Linked DNA regions of Homo sapiens: regions 2 and 3 are each linked to region 1. Evidence: fine-mapped expression QTL. A gene starts in region 1. Each other region holds a variant in brackets. All regions are shown on one strand. Distances are from middle to middle.

The links. PIP is the estimated chance that this variant, and not a neighbour inherited with it, causes the effect.
Region 2: its variant is fine-mapped to the expression of IFIT5 in atrial appendage (GTEx, PIP above 0.99). The same link has a PIP of 0.9 or more in stomach.
Region 3: its variant is fine-mapped to the expression of IFIT5 in whole blood (TOPMed, PIP above 0.99).

The regions. Positions count from the first base shown.
Region 1 is chr10:89,411,005-89,419,016 of GRCh38, forward strand. It overlaps IFIT5 (interferon induced protein with tetratricopeptide repeats 5), which reads left to right and starts at 3,564. Exons shown (of 2, transcript NM_012420.3): 1 at 3,564-3,799; 2 at 6,201-8,012. The coding sequence starts at 3,795. The coding sequence ends at 7,644. It also overlaps a transcript of LIPA not described here. RefSeq lists enhancers at 3,421-3,730, 4,341-4,440, 4,541-4,610.
Region 2 is chr10:89,377,891-89,385,902 of GRCh38, forward strand. It overlaps IFIT1B (interferon induced protein with tetratricopeptide repeats 1B), which reads left to right and starts at 166. Exons shown (of 2, transcript NM_001010987.2): 1 at 166-250; 2 at 5,429-7,315. The coding sequence starts at 246. The coding sequence ends at 6,848. It also overlaps a transcript of LIPA not described here. The variant A/G (reference allele first, on the strand shown) is at 4,939.
Region 3 is chr10:89,313,406-89,321,417 of GRCh38, forward strand. It overlaps a transcript of LIPA not described here. Among named protein-coding and RNA genes, the nearest start is that of IFIT3, 11 kb to the right of the region's middle. The variant T/C (reference allele first, on the strand shown) is at 5,010.

The DNA.
Region 1 (8,012 bases):
TTTAAAAGCCAGGGTAAATTTAAAACCTATAATTGATAACTGAAGGTCTTCTCAGAAACCCTATAACACTCCAATACCACCTTGCTGTCAGTGTAAACAAGGGCGTAGCCTGAAAGCACTGAGGCCACTGACAACCAGTAGCCTTCCTATCAAAAATCCTTACCCAGCAGGTTTCCTAACAGGGGATCTAAATCTTAATTAATTCCCATACAAAGGTCTGACCAGATCTAGGAGGAACTCCCTTCAGGACAGGACGGATAGATGGTTCCTCCTGGGCAATTAAGGAAAAAAAAAACACAATGGGTATTCAGTAAATAATAAGGAAACTCTTGTAGAAGCAGTGTTAGGAAAATTGCCTAATAATTGGTCTGCTCAAATGTGTCAGCTGTTTGCACTCAGCCAAACCTTAAAATACTTACAGAATCAGGAAGGAGCCATCTATACCAATTCTAAGTTAATATGGACTGAACGAGGTCTTACTAATAGCAAAGAATAATTGAAATCCCAAACTTACAAGGTTTTCAACTAACGTAAAGTTTGCTAAAAGTTAACAGTGTAACATGCATTATCCTACTACCATACACTCTCAAAGGATTTCTCAGACAGTTTGCATGAAATAATGAAATCTATCCTTACTCTACAATCCCAAACAGACTCTTTGGCAGCAGCGACTCTCCAAAATCGCCAAGGCCTAGACCTCCTCACTGCTGAGAAAGGAGGACTGTGCAGCTTCTTAGGGGAAGAGTGTTGTTTTTACACTAACCAGTCAGGGATAGCACGAGATGCCACCCGGTGTTTACAGGAAAAGGCTTCTGAAATCAGACAACACCTTTCAAACTCTTATACCAACCTCTGGAGTTGGGCAACATGGCTTCTCCCCTTTCTAGGTCCTGTGGCAGCCATCTTGCTGTTACTTGTCTTTGGGCCCTGTGTTTTTAACCTTCTTGTCAAATTTGTTTCCTCTAGAATTGAGGCCCTCAAGCTACAGATGGTCTTACAAATGGAACCCCAAATGAGTTCAACTAACAACTTCTACCGAGGACCCCTGGACTGACCTGCTGGCCCTTCCACTGGCCTAAAGAGTTCCCCTCTGGAGGACACTACACCTACAGGGCCCCTTCTTCGCCCCTATCCAGCAGAAAGTAGCTAGAGCAGTCATCAGCCAAATTCCCATCAGCAATTGGGGTGTCCTGTTTAGAGGGGGGATTGAGAGGTGAAGCTGGCTGGGCTTCTGGGTCAGGTGGGGACTCAGAGAACTTTTCTGTCTAGCTAAAGGATTGTAAACGCACCAATCAGCACTCTGTGTGTAGCTAAAAGTTTGTAAACGCACCAATCAGCACTCTGTCAAAATGGACCAATCAGCACTCTGTAAAATGGACCAATCAGCACTCTGTAAAATGGACCAATCAGCACTTTGTAAAGTGGACCAATCAGCTCTCTGTAAAATGGACCAATCAGCAGGATATGGGTGGAGCCAAATAAGGGAATAAAAGCAGGCCACCCCAGCCAGCAGCGGCAACCTGCTCGGGTCTGCTTCCACGTCGTGGAAGTTTTGTTCTTTCGCTCTTCGCAACGAATCTTGCTGCTGCTCACTCTTTGGGTCCACACTGCCTTTATGAGCTGTAACACTCACCACAAAGGTCTACGGCTTTACTCCTGAAGTCAGTGAAACCACGAACCCACCGGGAGGAACGAACAACTCCGGACGCGCCACCTTTAAGATCTGTAACACTCACTGTGAAGGTCTGCAGCTGCACTCCTGAAGTCAGCAAGACCACGAACTCACCAGAAGGAAGAAACTCCAGACACATCTGAACATCGAAAGGAACAAACTCCAGACACGCCATCTTTAACAACTGTAGCACTCACAGCGAGAGTCCGCAGCTTCATTCTTGAAGTCACCAAGACCAAAAACCTACTGGAAGGAACCAATTCCGGACACACCATCACCTACGTATTAAGCTCAGCATCACTTAGCTATACTTCTTGATGCTCTCCCTCCCACCACCCCCAACTCCAACAAGCCCCAGTGTGTGTTGTTCCCCACTGTGTCCGTGTGTTCTCATCATTTAGCTCCCACTTACAAGTGAGAACATGCAGTGTTTGGTTTCTGTTCCTGCATTAGTTTGCTGAGGATAATCACTGGAAATACTTGCTCTGTATTTAGAGTTCATAAAATTTGCAACTTATAAAAAGCAGATTCGTATACCTAAGTTATTCCAAATGTAAGTTTTCTATTAACTTATCAGTTTTTAAATTTATATTAAATTAAAAATCAGGTTCTTAATAGCCACAGGTGACCAGCAGTTTCTGTATAAGACAGTACAACTGTTAGAAGTGATTGCTTTAAATGAGGCACTCGCTTCAGGCACTAAGTTTTGAGGGGTGGGGTGCCAGAAGCTCAGTGATCAAGGTAGACAATATTTCAATGCAATATGTTTTTAAAAATTCAAAATCAGGCCAAGCATAGTGGCTCATGCCTGTAATCCCAGCATTTTGGGAGGCCACGATGGGCGGAACAATATTTAAGGTTTAGAAAAATATTTGTGCCCAGGTGTTGGAGACCAGCCTGGGCAACATGGCAAAACCCCGCCTCTACAAAAAATAAATTAATTAGCCCGACATAGTGGTGCACGCATATAGTCCCAGCCACTCAGGAGGCTGAGGTGGGAGGATCGCTTGAGCCATGAAGGTTGAGGCTGCAGTGAGCTGTCATCTCACCACTGCACTCCAACCTGAGTGACAGAGTGAGACCCTGTCTCAAAAAAAAAAAAAAAACCAAAATCAATGCAAAAGATGAATTATGGACAGGATATTGAGGTTTTGAATACAGACATTAACTCAATAAGGGTAAGGCCCGTGTCTGTTTTCTTTATTGTTATATTGACAGTACTTTGAACAAAGTCTGGCTCTTACAGTTGTTTGTCAATATTTGCTGAATGAATTCAAAGGGGACAAAATGTTTAAGGTATGGGTGTTTGACATTTTCTGCCTAGATCCCCAATACCACTCTTGTCTTTATTGGGTCCTTATTACAAAGCACCATTGGCGAAGGTATGGAAGAGAAGCAGTCTCCTACAATTGTGGGTAAGAGTGGATTTTTAAAGCTATTTGGCAATATCCGTCAAAACTTAAAATGTATATAGATTTTAGCTCCAAATTTCTCAGTTTACACCCAACAGAAATAACAGCATAGATGTATAGCATTGCAGTGTTGCTTGTTGAATCAAAAGACTGGAGTGGAAGCAGGGACTTAAGTTTCCGCCTGTAATCCCAGCACCTTGGGAGGCAGAGGCGGGCGCATCCCTTGAGATCACGACTGGGTGACACAGTGAGACGCTATCTCAAACAAACAAACAAACAAACAAACAGTTACACGGGCAGCATGCGAACTCAGCGTACTCAGGGAGGCAGATAAAAGCCGAGACCAAAGTGAAGGAGCCCAGCTGCAAATTCAACTCCGAAAGACCCTGGACTCCGCAAACGTCTGGCCGCGGCTCTTGAGCTCTTCTATTAAGTTTCGGTTTCTGAAGCTTACGTTTAGTTTCGATTTCTTAAGTTTCAGTTTCTGAGCGCTCGGCATCTGATTCAATCTCCAGTTTCCTGTTCTTGCTGGGGCTGGGGTCTCTCCTTTAACAAAGACACGCCGCGCGGCCGAGTCCAGGGGCTGCAGAGGCCTGGCGCGCGCACGCGCACGCGCACGCCCACCGCGCGGCTTCCCGCGGTCCCCGGTGCTGAGGAGAGAGCGATCCGAGGGACTGCGCCGCCCGGACGGCCTGCAGAGCGCTGCCATCATGAGGTAAGGGTTTTCCTTTGCCTCTCCTCCCAAGCCCTGCGTCGGCCTTGGTTTCAAACCGGGCTGCTTTTATTCATTTCCAGCGCAGTTCTGCGGCCTTTTCAGGGGCCGAGCCCCTCGCGCCCAGCAACCGGGCATCTGCGTTGGGGACCCTCCCCGGGCGCTCTGTCCCGGCGCGCGGCGTCTGAAGTCGGGCCTGCCGGGGAGGGTGGCCGAGTGGACGCTTCTCGGGAGTCCGGCCCCTCCCCAGCGCCTAAGAAGGCCGGTCAGGGAGGAGGAACAGGAGATGCTCCCCGGGAGCCTGTCCCATCCCTGGCGTCTGCGGTCGGGACTGTCAGGGTATGTGCCGGGCGACGCTCCCCCGGAAGGCCTGTCCACCCATCGCGACCCGACGGCTCTTCTCGGCAGCGGCGACGGTGACCGTGCTGGGTCCGCGGCCGCCGCCTCCGGGAAACTGGTCAGCGCCTGCAGAGCCCCCAGGCGCTGTTCCGGGGGCAGCTGCTACGTGCCACGGGTCTCCTTAGGCCTGTCGCGTGCCTCTCTTTCCAGCTGCCATTCCCTCGGTGTGGCATACGCGGTTTCGCCGCAGCCCTGCAGGCGTCAGGTTCGCCTGCCACTGCCAGTTTGCGTTTCTGATTTCTGGGTCTGAGTTCTTCCCTTCCCAGGAGCTACCTCTGTACCAAGCACAGATTGTTATCGTCCCACCCAATCCGCTGTTTTATGAGGATTTCTTTATCTGTTTCCTTTACTGATTTAGTATGATGGCGTCCTTTTCTTGATCATTTTGTATCCCCAGGGGCTAGCACCCCGCCCTGCACGTGGTTAGTGAACCTTCCGCATTTAATGAGTTGAGGAATGAGATGTTAAGGTCTTGGGCTCTAAAAGCAGATAGTCCCTTGTTCTAAATCCGGACTGAACTCCTACTAGTTGAGTGATCCCAAAGTTTCTCAAACTCTGTGAGTCTGTTCCTTATTTGTAAAAATTAATGGTGTCCATCTCTTGGGACTGTGGAAAAGGACAGTAATAAATCCTATCAGTTGACTGCTTAGCACATAATACTTGCACAATAAATGTTAATTATTCCCATTATAAGTTTAAAAAAAAAGTTTAAGTGCCACCCACACATCTAACTTTATTTTTGAGACGGAGTCTCGCCCTGTCACCCAGGCTGTAGTGTAATGGCTCCATCTCGGCTCACTGCAACCTCCGCCTCCCGGGTTCAAGCCATTCCCCTGCCTCAGCTTCCCGTGTAGCTGGGATTACAGGCGTGTGCCACCACGCCTGGCTAATTTTTTGTATCTTTAGTAGAGACGCGGGTTTCACCATGTTGACCGGGCTGGTCTCGAATTCCTGACCTCGTGGTCCACCCGCCTCAGCCTCCCAAAGTGCTGGGATTACAGGCGTGAGCCACAACGCCTGGCCACATCTAACATTTGTAAGAAAGGAGAGTGCTATCAGGAAGGGGCTTGACAACAACAACAACAACAAAACAACAACAACAACAAAAAACAGAAAAAGACGGTGGCGTGCACCGTATATATGCAGGATGGGGAGGAAAAGGGCTCAGCCCCATTGGGGACTGTCTCCCAAGGACAATGAAAGTCTGCTTCTTCCTAGCAGAAGAACAGAATTACCGAAAGATACGTGTTACCTCTTCTGATGCAATAGCTTCTCTCTTATTAGCTTCCCAAAGACAAAGTTACAAAATTAAGTAGACAAAGTTTAAACAATAAAAATTCTCATGGTGTCCAGTTGTGCATAAATTCCAGAGCCTGGACAAACCACGTCAGTACCTGATTGAATGTCCCTTTGAGATCTTACAACCAAATCCATAATACCTGAGCAGCCCTCCTCATCCTCCTTGGGCTGGGCTGGTAGAGACCTTCAAAACAGGTGTTTGTTTTAGGCAGGGGGCTGGTAAAGCCATGTTGTTGTGGATTTAAGCAGGCTGTAAGGACATGGCATGTCTTGCCCATATTTTTGGTACAATTACACTAGAGAAAGGAACAATTACCAAGGAGCAATTTTACCAGGTTTCCTAGTCAGGATCAGTACTCATAATACAAAAATGGAATTTTCATATTAATTATTGAATATGTATATATTCATTCCTAATTTTCAATGGTTTAGTGATTGCCAAAAGGAAATAGATACATGTAATACAGAAAGCTCTGTCATCTCTCCAGAACTGTTTTTGCAATAAATAGTGAGAATTTAAATGAAATATTTCTAGGACATAACTGTATATAGAAGAAACTCTAGTATAAAGTTATGGGAAACTTATGTTTTAACTGTAAGATCAAATAGGGATAAAATTAGTTGTTATGCAAAGAACAATATTTAAGGTTTAGAAAATTATTTCTTGTATTTCTTCAAAAATTAAAAAGTATTTTATCTTTGACAGTGAAATTCGTAAGGACACCTTGAAGGCCATTCTGTTGGAGTTAGAATGTCATTTTACATGGAATTTACTTAAGGAAGACATTGATCTGTTTGAGGTAGAAGATACAATTGGGCAACAGCTTGAATTTCTTACCACAAAATCTAGACTTGCTCTTTATAACCTATTGGCCTATGTGAAACACCTAAAAGGCCAAAATAAAGACGCCCTTGAGTGCTTGGAACAAGCAGAAGAAATAATCCAGCAAGAACACTCAGACAAAGAAGAAGTACGAAGCCTGGTCACTTGGGGAAACTATGCCTGGGTGTATTATCACATGGACCAGCTTGAAGAAGCTCAGAAGTATACAGGTAAGATAGGGAATGTCTGTAAGAAATTGTCCAGTCCTTCTAACTACAAGTTGGAGTGTCCTGAGACTGACTGTGAGAAAGGCTGGGCACTCTTGAAATTTGGAGGAAAGTATTATCAAAAGGCTAAAGCGGCTTTTGAGAAGGCTCTGGAAGTGGAGCCTGACAATCCAGAATTTAACATCGGCTATGCTATCACAGTGTATCGGCTGGATGATTCTGATAGAGAAGGGTCTGTAAAGAGCTTTTCTCTGGGGCCTTTGAGAAAGGCTGTTACCCTGAACCCAGATAACAGCTATATTAAGGTTTTTCTGGCACTGAAGCTTCAAGATGTACATGCAGAAGCTGAAGGGGAAAAGTATATTGAAGAAATCCTGGACCAAATATCATCCCAGCCTTACGTCCTTCGTTATGCAGCCAAGTTCTATAGGAGAAAAAATTCCTGGAACAAAGCTCTCGAACTTTTAAAAAAGGCCTTGGAGGTGACACCAACTTCTTCTTTCCTGCATCACCAGATGGGACTTTGCTACAGGGCACAAATGATCCAAATCAAGAAGGCCACACACAACAGACCTAAAGGAAAGGATAAACTAAAGGTTGATGAGCTGATTTCATCTGCTATATTTCATTTCAAAGCAGCCATGGAACGAGACTCTATGTTTGCATTTGCCTACACAGACCTGGCCAACATGTACGCTGAAGGAGGCCAGTATAGCAATGCTGAGGACATTTTCCGGAAAGCTCTTCGTCTGGAGAACATAACCGATGATCACAAACATCAGATCCATTACCACTATGGCCGCTTTCAGGAATTTCACCGTAAATCAGAAAATACTGCCATCCATCATTATTTAGAAGCCTTAAAGGTCAAAGACAGATCACCCCTTCGCACCAAACTGACAAGTGCTCTGAAGAAATTGTCTACCAAGAGACTTTGTCACAATGCTTTAGATGTGCAGAGTTTAAGTGCCCTAGGGTTTGTTTACAAGCTGGAAGGAGAAAAGAGGCAAGCTGCTGAGTACTATGAGAAGGCACAAAAGATAGATCCAGAAAATGCAGAATTCCTGACTGCTCTCTGTGAGCTCCGACTTTCCATTTAAATACATACTCTAGGAAATTAGCTCTAAGTTTTTCCCTTCATTTTGGGTTCTCCTGTTTGTTTTTTTTTTATTATTTTAATCCCTTGTTTATTATAGAGCTAATATTTATTGAATAGTTATTGTGTACCAAGCATTGTGCTAAATACTTTATATGCATTATGATGAATCTTGTGCGGTTTTCTTTCTTTTTTTCTTTTTAATTAAAATACTATAATCCATTGAGAAATAGCAATATTCTAGCTATTGTAACTTCTAAAAATGGTATGGCCATTAGATCTGTGCTTTTTATCTCTGCTCTTTGAATTTCTCATATTATATAGTAAATATATTCCTACGTAAACCTTTGATACCTAGATCAGGAATACTCT
Region 2 (8,012 bases), 33 kb before region 1:
CATCCTCTTAGCTGCCAAAACTCAGCATGTATTTGTAATCAAAGCAGAGACAGCCCTATTCCTCTGTATCATTTTCACCCTGCCAATTCACTAGGCATCAAGGGTGTAAAAAACTGCCTGGATATACCTCCCATATATAAGCACCATGCTTATCTGAGAAGCCCTAGAACTCTGTGGATGAACCTTGAAGGAGCCTCCAAGCCTGAACCAAAGCACTACAGATCACCTGCTATCTTCATAGCACCATGAGGTAAAGTCTTTCTCTGCTTCACTGACCTTATTTCTGCACACTTTGAAATTCTAAAACTTTCCTTAAGGGCCAATTTTTTGACAGGCCTTCTCCTAAGGGAGCTGTCCCACTGGTGGTTCTGACCCTGATAGGCACCCTCAACATGATAACCAAGAAGAGTTTAATAAGGGGGCTATTTAAGACGATATGGGCAAAGTTTAGGGAAATCAACAGGAAATGGTGCTTGTTGGTTGCAGGGCAGCGGGAAGAGGCGTGTTGGTTTACAACAGTGGTAACATGATAACCCTGGGCCTACAGGAGCAAGAGGAGAGAACCAGACCCAAGGAGACTCTAAGCTATAGCTGTAGGGGAGGGGCTTCTCAAGAGGCCTTTGGTGAAAAAATCACTGACAACCTCAAGCAGAGCACAGTGGGAGCTTAGGAATTAATTCCATGACCTTCACCTCCTCCTGCAATTTAATATCTGGCTGGTGCTCCCCAGTGGGCCAACCCCAGTAGAAAGTAAAAAATAAAAGAGTTTTGGAGTTAATAAAGTCCATAGAGTCAGCTTCCAAGCACAGAGCATGGTGAAGAATGTAGGAAAGTAGATTCAGAGGGGCAAGATGAGAATATATGTAGAGGCAAGTTTCCTAACTCCTGTTACAGAGCTCGCTTAGTAAGGGTAGCTGGCTTAATAAAAGCAGCAATGCTCTTAAGGAAATAAACGAGAAAGCAATCTTATTTCCAAAGATGTCATTTCTGTAGCACTTTCTAATAGAGGGACAATTACCCAGGCAACACTTAAAGACTGTTCACCAGGGAACAGAGGCCTGAGCCTAGAGAGGAGACTGGCCCGGGGACCAGTCAGGGCAAGAGCATTGAGATCCTTTTAATATACAAAATACTCTTTTAGGCATCCAGGTGAGAAGAAGCAGCTATTTTTATTTGATAAATTGGTTAAATTCACGTGGGAAAAAGAAGCTACTTTCAGAGATGGCTGTTTTTCTGTTGTTTGTTTGTTTTTGATACCAAGTCAAATTTTGTGATTACTGTGAAACTATGAAATTGTGATTACTATGAAATTTGCTTTTCACTGAATTAACTGTTCTCAAAGTGTGGTCCCCTGACTAGCAACATCAGCATCACTTGGGAAGGTAGCAGAAATGCAAATTCTCAGGCCCTACCCTAAACCTGCTGACTCAGAAACTCTAGGGTGGGGCCCATCAATCTGTGTGTTATAAGTTTTCCAGGTGATCATGTTGCCTGCTAAAATTTGAAAAACCATTATACTAGATGTTAGAAAATAAGAAATTTTGTAGGCATTGTGATATGTTTGTTCCACAAAATATATATTTCTTTTTTTCCTGGTGTAGTTAGAACTGGTGACCTGCAGAAAATGCTTTCACTCAAAAGTATTCTGACCTGCTAGAGTTCTCCCATCTGATGTTGCAGTCAGTGGGAGAGGAAGAACTTTACAGAAAAAGGGGCTGCTCTTTTGAGATCCCTTTCTAGCAAACATGTAGACCTGTCTTGAGAAGAAATTATAAATGAAGGATTGCAAAAAAATTCACCACAAGAGTACCCAAGTCTCTCTTTTTAATATAACGGGCTCCTGGTCATAAGATGTTAGTTGTGGCTGGGCATGGTGGCTCACACCTGTAATCCCAGCACTTTGGGAGGCCGAGATGGGCAGATCACGAGGTCAGGAGATCAAGACCATCCTGACTAACAAGGTGAAACCCCGCCTCTTCTAAAAAATACAAAAAATTAGCCGGGAGTGGTGGCGGGCGCCTGTAGTCCCAGCTACTCAGGAGGCTGAGGCAGGAGAATGGCGTGAACCTGGGAGGCGGAGCTTGAAGTGAGCCGAGATTGCACCACTGCACTCCAGCCTGGGCAACAGAGTGAGACTCCGTCTCAAAAAAAAAAAAAAACAAAAGGTATTAGTTGTGTCTGCATCTGTGGAGTTGACAGAAAGCAAGCCTTTCATTCCCTGCTGCCTTGGTAGCTAGTCTATGTGAGAGGTTTTGCAATGGCCTGGGCGTATGTTTCTAGAAGCCACTGACCTGAGGTGGCCTAAGGGGAATCTGGACTATCCCAGACTGAATAATGCCCACATCAAAATCCTCCTGATCCCACTGGTTCAGGGACAGAGGAGCAGATTGAGCTCCTCCTTCCATTCATGCTTATTGATCAAGACAGCTTAAGTGGAGCTTAAGTGGACAAGATCCAGGGAAATGCCTCACAAAACATGGTGACGAGTCCCTGTCTGCCACAGGCATACAGGGATTAGGTCACTACATACATGCACAAACTCATCTTTTTTTTTTTTTTTTTCCAGACAGGGCCTCCCTCTGTCACCCAGTCTGGAGTGCAGTGGCATGATCACAGCTCACTGCAGCCTCCACCTGCCCGGGCTCAGGTGATCCTCCCACGTCAGCCCAAGTCGCTGGGACTACTGGTGTGCATCGCCAGGCCCGGCTAATTTTTGTATTTTTTGAGAGACATGGTTTCGCTATGTTGCCCATGCTGGTCGTGAACTCCTGGGCTCAAGCAATTCACCTGCCTTGGACTCTCAAAGTGTTGGGATTACAGGCATTAGCCACCACGCTGGGGCCTAATTTGATGATAATATGTATACTACTAATAACAGCACTTTCTGTATGCTCACCAGATAAAAGGAGGACTTTAGGCTCTCAGCATTTCCATTTTAGAGAGTGAGGACACCTCTAGGGTGATATTCTACTCCTTAGTCTTCCCAGGGCCCAAGTCAAGAAGATACATGTTGATGAACAACCACCTATAAGAAAGAGCAATAATTCTCTTCTGGAACTTGGCAGGGCAGCCTTGTAAGATTGTGTAAATTGTGCACTTGAAATTCTACAATCTCAGTGAAAGCCAAAATCTAGTATACTTTTTTCCACCTATCAATGCATGGCCATGATTAGATCACTCAGAGGAAGACTGATCTCTTTCTACTGCTCACAAATGTGCTGGGTGGGCTAGCAGCTGAGATGCTGAGATTGGGTACATATTTAGAAAGCTTGGAATGGCTTATCTTCAAATATTCCAGCAGCTCTAGAGTAATGGAAGTCTGTGTGGATTATTTTCCCTGGGTAGTGTCTGTTCTCATCATAGCACAAGCTCCACGGGGCATGAGTGGACGATTTGGGTCAAAAACTCTTCCCGATTCCATCTTCTGTAGGGGTGGTGACTATTTTCAGTGAGCATTCTTCAGCACAATATTAATTTTACTTACTCCTGACCCCACCTCACCCAGCATATGTCCCACACACACCCCCACACACAGGTTTCATTGGGTAATCTTCCTGGGCCACAGCTGGAAGGAAGATTTCTGGGACTCCTCATCTCAGCAGTCAACTATACAGTCCTATCCTAAAGCAATATGCCAGGACTCTCATATTCCACAGACTCAAGGATGGAGAAGATGGCTTGGGATTGTGGGCAGGAATGCACTCAAGGAGGGTCTAAGCATAGTAGGGAGTTTTTTAGATGGAGACTCTGAGGGAAAAGTGAGGGCTGTGTTGAGCTGCCAGCTGTGCTCAAAGCAGCAGTCATAAGCCTGAGTATCCTCTGCCCAACTTTGTGGTGCTATTCATTATCTTGTGAATCCTTTCCTTTCTTCCTTTCTTTCCTTTCCTTTATTTTCTTTATTATTAATTTTTTTGAGACAGAGTCTGGCTCTGTTGCCCAGCCTGGAGTGCAGTGGCATGATCTCGGTTCATGGCAACCTCCACTTTCCAGACTCAAGTGATTCTTGTGCCTCAGCCTCCAGAGTAGCTGGGACAACGCTGGCTAATTTTTTGTATTTTTAGTAGAGATGGGGTTTCACCATGTTGCCCAGGCTAGTTTTGAACTCCTGAGCTCAGGCAATCTGCCTACCTCGGCCTCCCAAAATGCTAGGATTACAGGTGTGAGCCACCACACCTGGCCGTGAACTTTTTCTTTCCCTTTATTTTCAAAAAAGAATGTTTCATCATCCATTTTTTGTGATTAGATTATGGTTATATTATATTATATTATGGTTATATTGAGTCAGGATTTATATAAAAATTGTTTTTGCTATACATTGCCATATAGAGAGTAAGAGAAAATTTCATAATGGTCCTCTCTGAAATCATTCCTTGGGCCTAACGGATAGAAAACATGTCAAGTATAGACTGTAAAGTAATTAGTTTAGAACACAGAGGTAAATATACTTACATAGGATGTGAGGACCACTTTTTCAACTATTAAGGACAAATTTCTTTTTCTTCCTTCATGTTCTTATAGGGAGACTAGGACTTCAGTTCCACTTCAGAGGAGCGTGAACTATTGGGGAAAAAAACCCTTCTGGTCCCACTGACTTCATATTATTCTCTCTTCCTCATGAGTGGCTGAGAGATTACTACAATTGTTGAGATTTTATAGCCTGTCCTCCACTAGGCTTCAGGGTTACTTGATGTCAGGAGCACTGACTTACAAAAGTGGGACTTGCCACTTCTTCAAAGAGACACATCTTACCTATGTAATGTTCATTCATGCCTCTTCTTCTGTCCCCATCAGTAAGGCTGCCCTTGTGAGGTGGTTCCACCCACTTGGAACCCCTCCATTTAGGATTGGTTGAGTAAGTGCACACAGGCAAAGGAGTTAGAAACCCTACCACATTCTCCAACCTGGCTTGAGCATTCATGAAGTCCTGCATTTGAAACC[A/G]TATTTGGCTCTCATATTTTACTCAGAACCCTTCATGGGAGGAGAGAAAACCAAAATGTGTTTACGTGTTGAGAACATGAAAAAGATGAGTAAGGAACCCACCTTTCTGTGAACCCTCTCTCCACATTTCTTCTGACTGCATTAGTCATGGACTGCAAAGTCAGGAGGAAGCAGAAAGAAGACAGGTTTTGCAGTGTTGAGGGTGGTGCTGAGATTATTTTGATGTTAGCAGAATTAACCTCTTTTGAATTGACTTTTAGACTTCATGTAACCTATCTGTTGGCACTACAAGATGATTAGCATTTCCCCTTGGTTTTTATGTCAACCTGTTCTCTTTCCTAATGACATGACTGTAGAACCCAGAGGGGCACCAGATAATGGAGGCAGGGAAATTAGGATAGAGCATATTTGACTATTTGAAGTGCTGGCTTCATTTTCAGTGGACTGAATACTTTCTCAAAATGTAATTAATTGCTGCCTATTTTTACAGTGAAGAATCTGATGGAAAGCTTATTGAAGACAGCCTGATTCAGCTGAGATGTCACTTTACATGGAAGTTGTTAATTGAAGCCCCTGAAATTCCTGATTTAGAAAACAGGATCTGGGAAGAGATTCAGTTCCTGGACACCAAATACAATGTGGGAATACACAACCTACTAGCCTATGTGAAACACCTGAAAGGCCAGAATGAGGAAGCCCTGGTCAGCTTGAAAAAGGCTGAAGACTTAATTCAGAAAGAACATGCCAACCAAGCAGATATTAGAAGTCTGGTGACCTGGGGCAACTTTGCCTGGGTGTATTACCACATGGGCAGATTGGCAGAAGCCCAGACTTACCTGGACAAGGTGGAGAACACTTGCAAGAAGTTTGCAAATCCTTCCCGCTATAGAATGGAGTGTCCAGAGGTGGACTGTGAGGAAGGATGGGCCTTGGCGAAGTGTGGTGGAAAGAATTATGAACGGGCCAAGACCTGCTTTGAAAAGGCTCTGGAAGGGAACCCTGAAAACCCTGAATTCAATACTGGGTACGCAATCACCGTCTATCGCCTGGATAAATTTAACACAGCATCAGGGAGGAATAAGGCATTTTCTCTGCACGTCCTAAAACGAGCTGTCAGGCTAAATCCAGATGATGTATATATTAGGGTTCTCCTTGCCCTGAAGCTTCAGGATGAAGGACAGGAAGCTGAAGGAGAAAAGTACATTGAAGAAGCTCTGACCAGTATATCTTCACAGGCCTATGTCTTTCAATATGCAGCCAAGTTTTATCGAAGAAAAGGGTCTGTGGATAAAGCTCTTGAGCTCTTAAAAATGGCCTTGGAGACAACACCCACTTCTGCCTTCCTGCATCACCAAATGGGGCTTTGCTACAGGGCACAAATGATCCAAATCAAGGAAGCTACAAACTGGCAGCCTAGAGGGCAAGATAGGGAAACTGTGGACAGATTGGTTCAATTGGCTATATGCAAATTTGAAAAGACTATAATGTTAAAGCGAACATTTGAGATGGCCTATGTTGACCTGGCTGAAACGTATGCAGAAATAGGCCACCACAGAAAGGCTGAGGAACATTTTCAGAAAGGGTTACGCATGAAGATCTTTGAAGATCAGCTAAAGCAAGAGATTCATTACCACTACGGCCGTTTCCAAGAACATCATGGGAAATCTCAAGATAAAGCAATTACCCATTATTTAAAAGGTTTGAAAATAGAAAAAATGTCCCATTCCAGGGAAAAACTTCTCAATGCTTTAGAGAAATTGGCTAAAAGATGTATTCACCAGAATGTACGGGTTGTGGAAAGTGTCAGCCTCCTTGGGCTTATCCACAAATTGAAAGGAGAAGTAAGTGATGCTTTGCTGTGCTATGAGAGGGCTCTGAGGCTGGCTGCTGACCTGAACCCTATATTTTAACATAGAGGTCACCATTATCCATTTAATGGTCTTATAACTAAATAGAATGACTATGAAATTAAATAATGCAAACTTAAAGCTGTTGGAAATTTACCTTATTTTGAGCCTTGAGAGGAATGTGGCTGTGTGGCCTGAGTTATGTAGCATGCAACTGCAACTTCTGCTTTTTCCTGTAAATGATCAGGAAAGGCCTTGTGGCACCAGACATAAGACCCCCTGAAAGTATCATCCCTCCTGATGGAATGGTAAAGCAATCTTTCTTGGAACATAGCAAGTAGTAACCGATCAAATTGCTATAACGTGTGTACTGACCTTATGTGGAAAATGCTGCAACCCTGTTTACTGCCTATGTAAGTGAAATCTTAACTTCCCCATTTTGGAATGCTGACTCCAGTCATTAGGTGTCTGTATTTCCTGAGTGGTTACCCTCAAGCTTTGTGCTCAAATAAACTCTATACTTAATCATAGTTTCTGAATTCCATTATTTGAGATTGAGACAACAGTCTTTCCCAATTGCTGCCTTCAAAAATGTATAGTCTGATGAAATACAAAATACTTCGGTATAACACATACTCTATTGCCTGGCCACCCCCCTCATTTTTTCCTCTTCAATCCATGTGTCTGCGGCAGGAGCATCTATTCTTCCACAACACATCCCTGCATTCATTGACCAAGGCTTATTAATGCTGTTTTAGGCACCTACATCTGCTGGGACAATAAGAATCATTTTCCTTAAAATTTTGCCTTTGGAATGAGCAGTTTTCATCCTCAGTCTCCCAAACAAAGGAGACCTAAACAGGGAAGGTTTCTGTTCCATGTGGCCAGGGTCACTGACCTGCAACAAAACCTAAGAGTAAAATAAATGAGCAAAGACAAGAGTTAGAAAGGAGGGAATTTCAGGAGTTCTACAGCATTCTAGCTGGAGTTCTATTTCCCAAGGCCCTACTGTAGCTGGGACCTGCTGGTCAGTGAGCCAAGCCTTATAATAAATTCAAATTTTTGTTTACATGTGTCCAGCTGCTGGCAATCACAAGGGATCTACGTGACCCAAACACACTGCTGGACATTTATTCACACCTGAGATCACACCTAAAATCACACATCTAAGATTACACCTAAGAGCTTTGCTAAGATCACAAATTCTTGGAGTGTATTTTATTAGTG
Region 3 (8,012 bases), 98 kb before region 1:
ATAAGAAAATCTGTATTACCTCAAAAATAAGTATGTTTAATGTAAAATGGTGCAGCCACTTTGGAAAATAGTTGGACAGTTCTTCAAATGGTTAAACATAGTTACCATATGACCCAGCAATTCCATTCCTAGATACATATGTAAGAAAAAGGAAAACATGAAAACATAGGTTCACACAAAACTTGTGCATGAATGTTCATAGCTGTATTATTCATGATGGCCAAAAAGTGGACCCATCAACTGATGAATTGATAAATTAAATATGGTAGAGCCACATAATGGAATATTATTTGGAAACAAAAATAAGTGAAGTACTTACTGATACATGATACAACACAGATGAACCTTGAAAACATGCAAAGTGACAAAAGGCAATTTAAAAAGTCACATATTGTATGATTCTGTTTATATGAAATGTGGAACGGAGGCAAATTTATAGACACAGAAAATAGATTAGCAGTTGCCTAAGGCTAGGGGAGGGGGTTGTGACGATGGGAGATGACAGCTTGAGAATGTTCTATAATTGATTGTGGTGCTGGTTGCATAACTGTGAATATAATGAAAGCTATTGAATTGTATACTTTAAATGAGTGGATTATATGATATGTGAATTATATTTTATTATAGCTGTTAAAAATGGGCACTCTTATTCCAAATATAATAAAGAAAATTTTTCTTTTGTTATCTATTTTTACTTCTAAGTTTGTTTTCATTGTGTTGTATCCTTATTAGTAGCATTTTGAATACTGTCATTGCTTTCACATTCGGTAGATATGTTAGATAAGTTATGTATTCTATTTTCTGAGTTGGGTGTGCTATGAAAATCTGGTCCCATCTGATTTTATATTTAAATACTCATACGCAGGAACCTTACTGATTGGCAAATTGGCACAAAGAAAGAGTCCAAATACAGAAGAGAATTTGACTCCATATGTAAGTTCAAATCTGCATGTGTACAAGTTTAAGAATAATGTGAATTTATGCCCGAGCGCAGTGGCTTACGCCTCTAATCCCAACACTTTGGGAGGCCAAGGCGGGTGGATCACGAGGTTTAGAGATCGAGACCATCCTGGCCAACATGGTGAAACCCCATCTCCACTAAAAATACAAAAATTAGGTGGGTATGGTGGTGGGTACCTGCAGTCCCAACTATTCGGGAGGCTGAGGCAGGTGAATTTCTTGAACCCAGGAGGTGAAGGTTGCAGTGAGCCGAGATTGTGCCACTGCACTCCAGCCTGGCTACAGAGCGAGACTCTGTCAAAAAGAAAAAAAAGAATAGTATGAATTTCTTAATGATGCAGAATGTTATTCAGTCACCATGTGCAACTGTTGCAAATACTGCTAATTCATGAGTACTTTTTGAGCCAGGAATTAGAACAAAAAGAAAAGCAAGAAAATGGACAATAGGTCCTACTGTACTGGAAAAATAATTATTCATTACATAAGAATCTATTGCATTCTGGTGAAAGACAGTCTTTGAGCAGTTTGCTGAATTTGCCTTTTCTCTGATCTTTATTGCTACAATCCTCTCTGAACTCCAAAGCAGAATCTGTCTCTAAAAATCAGCTCCCTCACAATGCACAAACATGCATGATATAATCTCCATTCATTGTGAGCAAAGAAGGGAAGATAGGCAACTTTTCCCTGGGCTGGATGTTTAGGGTTTCAAGTCCAATTCTACCAGAATTAAGCACTGGATTCTGAGTAACAGAGGTGCTATTTGTTCTTTCAAAATTTTACATGTTTGTATCTGTGATATATGGGACCCTCTAAAGCACGGGGCCAAAGGCACCTTCTAACTGGGTATAAGGATGGTATTTATACCATTTATGATATCACAAATATATGTACCTTTTATAAAGATATGTCACTTTATTATCACCAAGATAACAAATTGTTAAGTTAAACAACCAATCAGAATTAGACTTTTCCAAGTTGCAGGTTTCTTTCTTAGACTATAACAACCTCTGAACTCGAAGTATCTCATGAGACTCTGTTGTTGGAAACACCATATGTCATGTTAATTTTGCTACACAAGAGTCTCTGCTTTGTGCAGCTACAGGATGGAGGAAACGCTTCTAGCTAACAATTCCTTCATTATCAAATTAGTCATGACAACTATACTCCCTAGGTTTTTATGAATATTTACATCATGGTTGGGAAGTATTATAAAAATGAAAAGAAAAAAAAAACCTCTCAGGGTAGTATCAACTCCTTCAGAGCTCAAAGCATAAATATATAATCCATCCATTAAACAATAATATGTGTATTACTTTTGCCCATTTTACAGCTGGGTAAACTAAATTATTATCCAGAGCTTGGAAAGCTAAACAGCTCACAGATCCCTCCAGGGCCTGGCTTCGTATGTTTAGTGTGAGGCAAAAAGGAAATTCTGGCTCAATGATATGGCCCCTGGAAAATTCGAGAACTAGTAAAGTAAACAGAGATAATTAAATCTAGGTCTCTAGGTCTAAATTTACTTCTGGGGGACAATTTACTGGACAAAACTACTATTTTTTTTTATTATACTTTAAGTTTTAGGGTACATGTGCACATTGTGCAGGTTAGTTACATATGTATACTAAAACTACTATTTTTTTTACAAAACATTTTGGAAGTCTTTCATATAACCGGCTCCCAGAAACCCCTACATCAGAATCTCCTAGAGACATTATTAAAAATGCAGTTTCAGAGGAGGTTCCAAGATGGCCAAATAGGAACAGCTCCAGTCTATAGCTCCCAGCATGAGTGATGCAGAAGATGGTAGTTTCTGCATTTCCAACTGAGGTACTGGGTTCATCTCACTGGGGCTTGTCAGATAGTGGGTGCAGCCCACACAGTGTGGGCCAAAGCAGGGCGGGGCATCGCCTCACCCGGGAAGTGCAAGGAGTCAGGGAATTCCCTTTCCTAGCCAAGGGAAGCCATGACAGATGGTACTTGGAATATTGAGACACTCCCACCCTAATACTGCGCTTTTCCAACGGTCTTAGCAAACAGAACACCAGGAGATTATATCCTGCTCCTGGCTCAGAGGGTCCCATGCCCAGGGAGCCTTGCTCACTGCTGGCACAGCAGTCTGAGATGGAACTGCAAGGCAGCAGTGAGGCTGGGGGAGGGGCGCCCACCATTGCTGAGGCTTGAGTAGGTAAACAAAGTGGCTAGGAAGCTCAAACTGGGTGGAGCCCACCACAGCTCAAGGAGGCCTGCCTGCCTCTATAGACTCCACCTCTGGGGCAGGGTATAGCTGAACAAAAGGCAGCAGAAACTTCTGTAGACTTAAACACCCTTGTCTGACAGCTTTGAAGAGAGTAGTGGTTCTCCCAGCACGGAGTTTGAGATCTGAGAATGGACAGACTGCCTCCTCAAGTGGGAGTTAGTCTGTTACTCCTCCCTGAGTAGCCTAACTGGAAGGCACCTCCCAGTAGGGGCTGACTGACACCTCATACGGCAGAGTGCACCTCTGCGATGAAGCTTCCAGAGAAAGGATCAGGCAGCAACATTTGCCTTTCTGCAGCCTCCACTGGTGATACCCAGGCAAACAGGGTCTGGAGTGGACTTCCAGCAAACTCCAACAGACCTGCAGCTGAGGGTCCTGACTGTTAGAAGGAAAACTAAAAAACAGAAAGGACATCCACACCAAAACCCCATCTGTATGTCACCATCATCAAAGACCAAAGGTAGATAAAACCACAAAGATGGGGAGAAACCAGAGCAGAAAAGCTGAAAATTCTAAAAAATCAGAGTGCCTCTTCTCCTCCAAAGGAATGCAGCTGCTTGCCAGCAATGGAACAAAGCTGGACGGAGAATGACTTTGATGAGTTGAGAGAAGAAGGCTGCAGACAATCGGTAATAACAAATTTCTTCGAGCTAAGGGAGGATGTTTGAACCCATGGCAAAGAAGCTAATAACCTTGAAAAAAGATTCGACGAATGGCTAACTAGAATAAAGAGCGTAGAGAAGACCTTAAATGATGTGATGGAGCTGAAAACCATGGCATGAGAACTATATGACGCATGCACAACCTTCAGTAGCCAATTCATCAACTGGAAGAAAGGGTATTAGTGATTGAAGATCAAATGAATGAAATGAAGTGAGAAGAGAAGTTTAGAGAAAAAAGAGTAAAAAGAAATGAACAAAGCCTCCAAGAAATATGGGACTATGTGAAAAGACCAAACATACATCTGACTGGTGTACCTGAAAGTGACACGGAGAATGGAACCAAGTTGGAAAACACTCTGCAGGATATTATGCAGGAGAACTTCCCCAACCTAGCAAGGGAGGCTAACATTCAAATTCAGGAAATACGGAGAACGCCACAAAGATATTCCTCGAGAAGAGCAATTCCAAGACACATAATTAGCAGATTCACCAAAGTTGAAATGAAGGAAAAAATGTTAAAGGCAGCCAGAGAGAAGGGTCAGGTTACCCACAAAGGGAAGCCCATCAGACTAACAGCAGATGTCTCGGCAGAAACTCTACAAGCCAGAAGAGAGTGGGGGCCAATATTCAACATTCTTAAAGAGAAGAATTTTCAACCCAGAATTTCATATCCAGCCAAACTAAGCTTCATAAGTGAAGGAGAAATAAAATCCTTTACAGACAAGCAAAGGCTGAGAGATTTTGTCACCACCAGGCCTGCCTTACAAGAGCTCCTGAAGGAAGCACTAAACATGGAAAGGAACAACCGGTACCAGCCACTGCAAAACATGTCAAAGTGTAAAGACCATCGGTGCTAGGAAGAAACGGCATCAGCTAACGAGCAAAATAACCAGCTAACATGATAAGGACAGGATCATATTCACACATAACAATATTAACCTTAAATGTAAATGGGCTAAATACCCCAATTAAAAGACACAGACTGGCAAATTGGCTAAAGAGTCAAGAACCATCAGTGTGCTGTATTCAGGAGAGCCATCTCATGGCAGAGACACACATAGGCTAAAAATAAAGGGATAGAGGAAGATCTACCAAGCAAATGGAAAATAAAAAAAGCAGGGTTGCAATCC[T/C]AGTCTCTGATAAAACAGACTTTAACCAACAAAGATCAAAAGAGACAAAGAAGGCCATTACATAATGGTAAAGGGATCAATTCAACAAGAAGAGCTAACTATCCTAAATATATATGCACCCAACACAGGAGCACCCAGGTTCATAAAGCAAGTCCTTAGAGACCTACAAAAAGATGTAGACTCCCAAACAATAATAACAGGAGACTTTAACACCCCACTGTCAACATTAGACAGATCAACGAGACAGAAAGTTAACAAGGATATCCAGGAGTTGAACTCAGCTCTGCACCAAGCAGACCTAATAGACATCTACAGAACTCTCCACCCCAAATCAACAGAATATACATTCTTCTCAGCACCACATTGCACTTATTCCAAAACTGACCACATAGTTGGAAGTAAAGCACTCCTCAGCAAATGTAAAAGAACAGAAATTATAACAAACTGTCTCTCAGACCACAGTGCAATCAAACTAGAACTCAGGATTAAGAAACTCACTCAAAACTGCTCAACTACATGGAAACTGAACAACGTGCTCCTGAATGACTACTGGGTACATAAGAAAATGAAGGCAGAAATAAAGATGTTCTTTGAAACCAATGAGAACAAAGACACAACACACCAGAATCTCTGGGACATATTTAAAGCAGTGTATAGAGGGAAATTTATAGCACTAAATGCCCACAAGAGAAAGCAGGAAAGATCTAAAATTGACACCTAATATTACAATTAAAAGAACTAGAGAAGCAAGAGCAAACACATTCAAAAGCTAGCAGAAGGCAAGAAATAACTAAGATCAGAGCAGAACTGAAGGAGATAGAGACAAAAAACCCTTCAAAAAAATCAATGAATCCAGGAACTGATTTTTTGAAAGGATCAACATTATTGATAGACCACTAGCAAGACTAATAAAGAAGAAAAGAGAGAAGAATCAAATAGATGCAATTAAAAATGATAAAGGGGATATCACCACCAATCACACAGAAATACAAACTATCATCAGAGAATACTATAAACACCTCTATGCAAATAAACTAGAAAATCTAGAAGAAATGGATAAATTCATGGACACATACACCCTCCCAAGACTAAACCAGGAAGAAGTTGAATTCCTGAATAGACCAATAACAGGGTCTGAAATTGAGGCAATAATTAATAGCCTACCAACCAAAAAAAGTCCATGACCAGATGGATTCACAACTGAATTCTACCAGAGGTACAAAGACGAGCTGGTACCATTCCTTCTGAAACTATTCCAATCAATAGAAAAAGAGGGAATCCTCCCTAACTCATTTGATGTGGCCAGCATCATCCTGATACCAAAGCCTGGCAGAAACACAACAAAAAAAGAGAATATCAGGCCAATACCCCTGATGAACATCGATGCAATGCAAATATCCTCAATAAAATACTGGCAAACTGAATCCAGCAGCACATCAAAAAGCTTATCCACCATGATCAAGTTAGCTTCATCACTGGGATGCAAGGCTGGTTCAACATATGCAAATTAATAAATGTAATCCAGCATAAAAACAGAACCAAAGACAAAAACCACATGATTATCTCAATAGATGCAGAAAAGGCCTTTAACAAAATTCAGTAGCCCTTCATGCTAAAAACTCTCAATAAACTAGGTATTGATGGGACATATCTCAAAATAATAAGAGCTATTTATGACAAACCCACAGCCAATATCATACTGAATGGGCAAAAACTGGAAGTATTCCCTTTGAAAACTGGCACAAGACAGGGATGCCCTCTCTCAACACTCCTATTCAAAACAGTGTTGGAAGTTCTGGCCAGGGCAATCAGGCAGGAGAAAGAAATAAAGGGTATTCAATTAGGAAAAGAGGAAGTCAAATTGTCCCTGTGTGCAGATGACATGATTGTATATTTAGAAAACCCCATAGTCTCAGCCCAAAAGCTCCTTAAGCTGATAAGCAACTTCAGCAAAGTCTCAGGATCCAAAATCAATGTGCAAAAATCACAAGCATTCCTATACACCAATAACAGACAAACAGAGAGCCAAATCATGAGTGAACTCCCATTCACAATTGCTTCAAAGAGAATAAAATACCCAGGAATCCAACTTACAAGGGATGTGAAGGACCTCTTCAAGCAGAACTACAAACCACTGCTCAATGAAATAAAAGAGGACACAAACAAATGGAAGAACATTCCATGCTCATGGATAAGAAGAATCAATATCGTGAAAATGGCCATACTGCCCAAGGTAATTTATAGATTCATGCCATCCCCATCAAACTACCAATGACTTTCTTCACAGAATTGGAAAAAACTACTTTAAAGTTCATATGGAACCAAAATAGAGCCTGCATTGCCAAGACAATCCTAAGCCAAAAGAACAAAGCTGGAGCCATCACACTACCTGACTTCAAACTATACTACAAGGCTACAGTAACCAAAACAGCATGGTACTGGTACCAAAACAGAGATATAGACCAATGGAACAGAACAGAGCCCTCAGAAATAATACCACACATCTACAACCATCTGATCTTTGACAAACCTGACAAAAACAAGCAATGGGGAAAGGATTCCCTATTTAATAAATGGTGCTGGGAAAACTGGCTAGCCATATGTAGAAAGCTGAAACTGGATCCCTTCCTTACACCTTATACAAAAATTAATTCAAGATGGATTAAAGATTTAAATGTTAGACCTAAAACCATAAAAACCCTAGAAGAAAACCTAGGCAATACCATTCAGGACATAGGCATGGGCAAGGACTTCATGTCTAAAACACCAAAAGCAATGGCAACAAAAGCCAAAATTGACAAATGGGATCTAATTAAACTAAAGAGCTTCTGCACAGCAAAAGAAACTACCATCAGAGTGGACAGGCAACCTACAGAGTGGGAGAAAATTTTTACAATCTACCCATCTGACAAAGGACTAATATCCAGAATCTACAAAAAACTTAAACAAATTTACAAGAAAAAAATCAAACAACCCCATCAAAAAGTGGGCAAAGGCTATGAA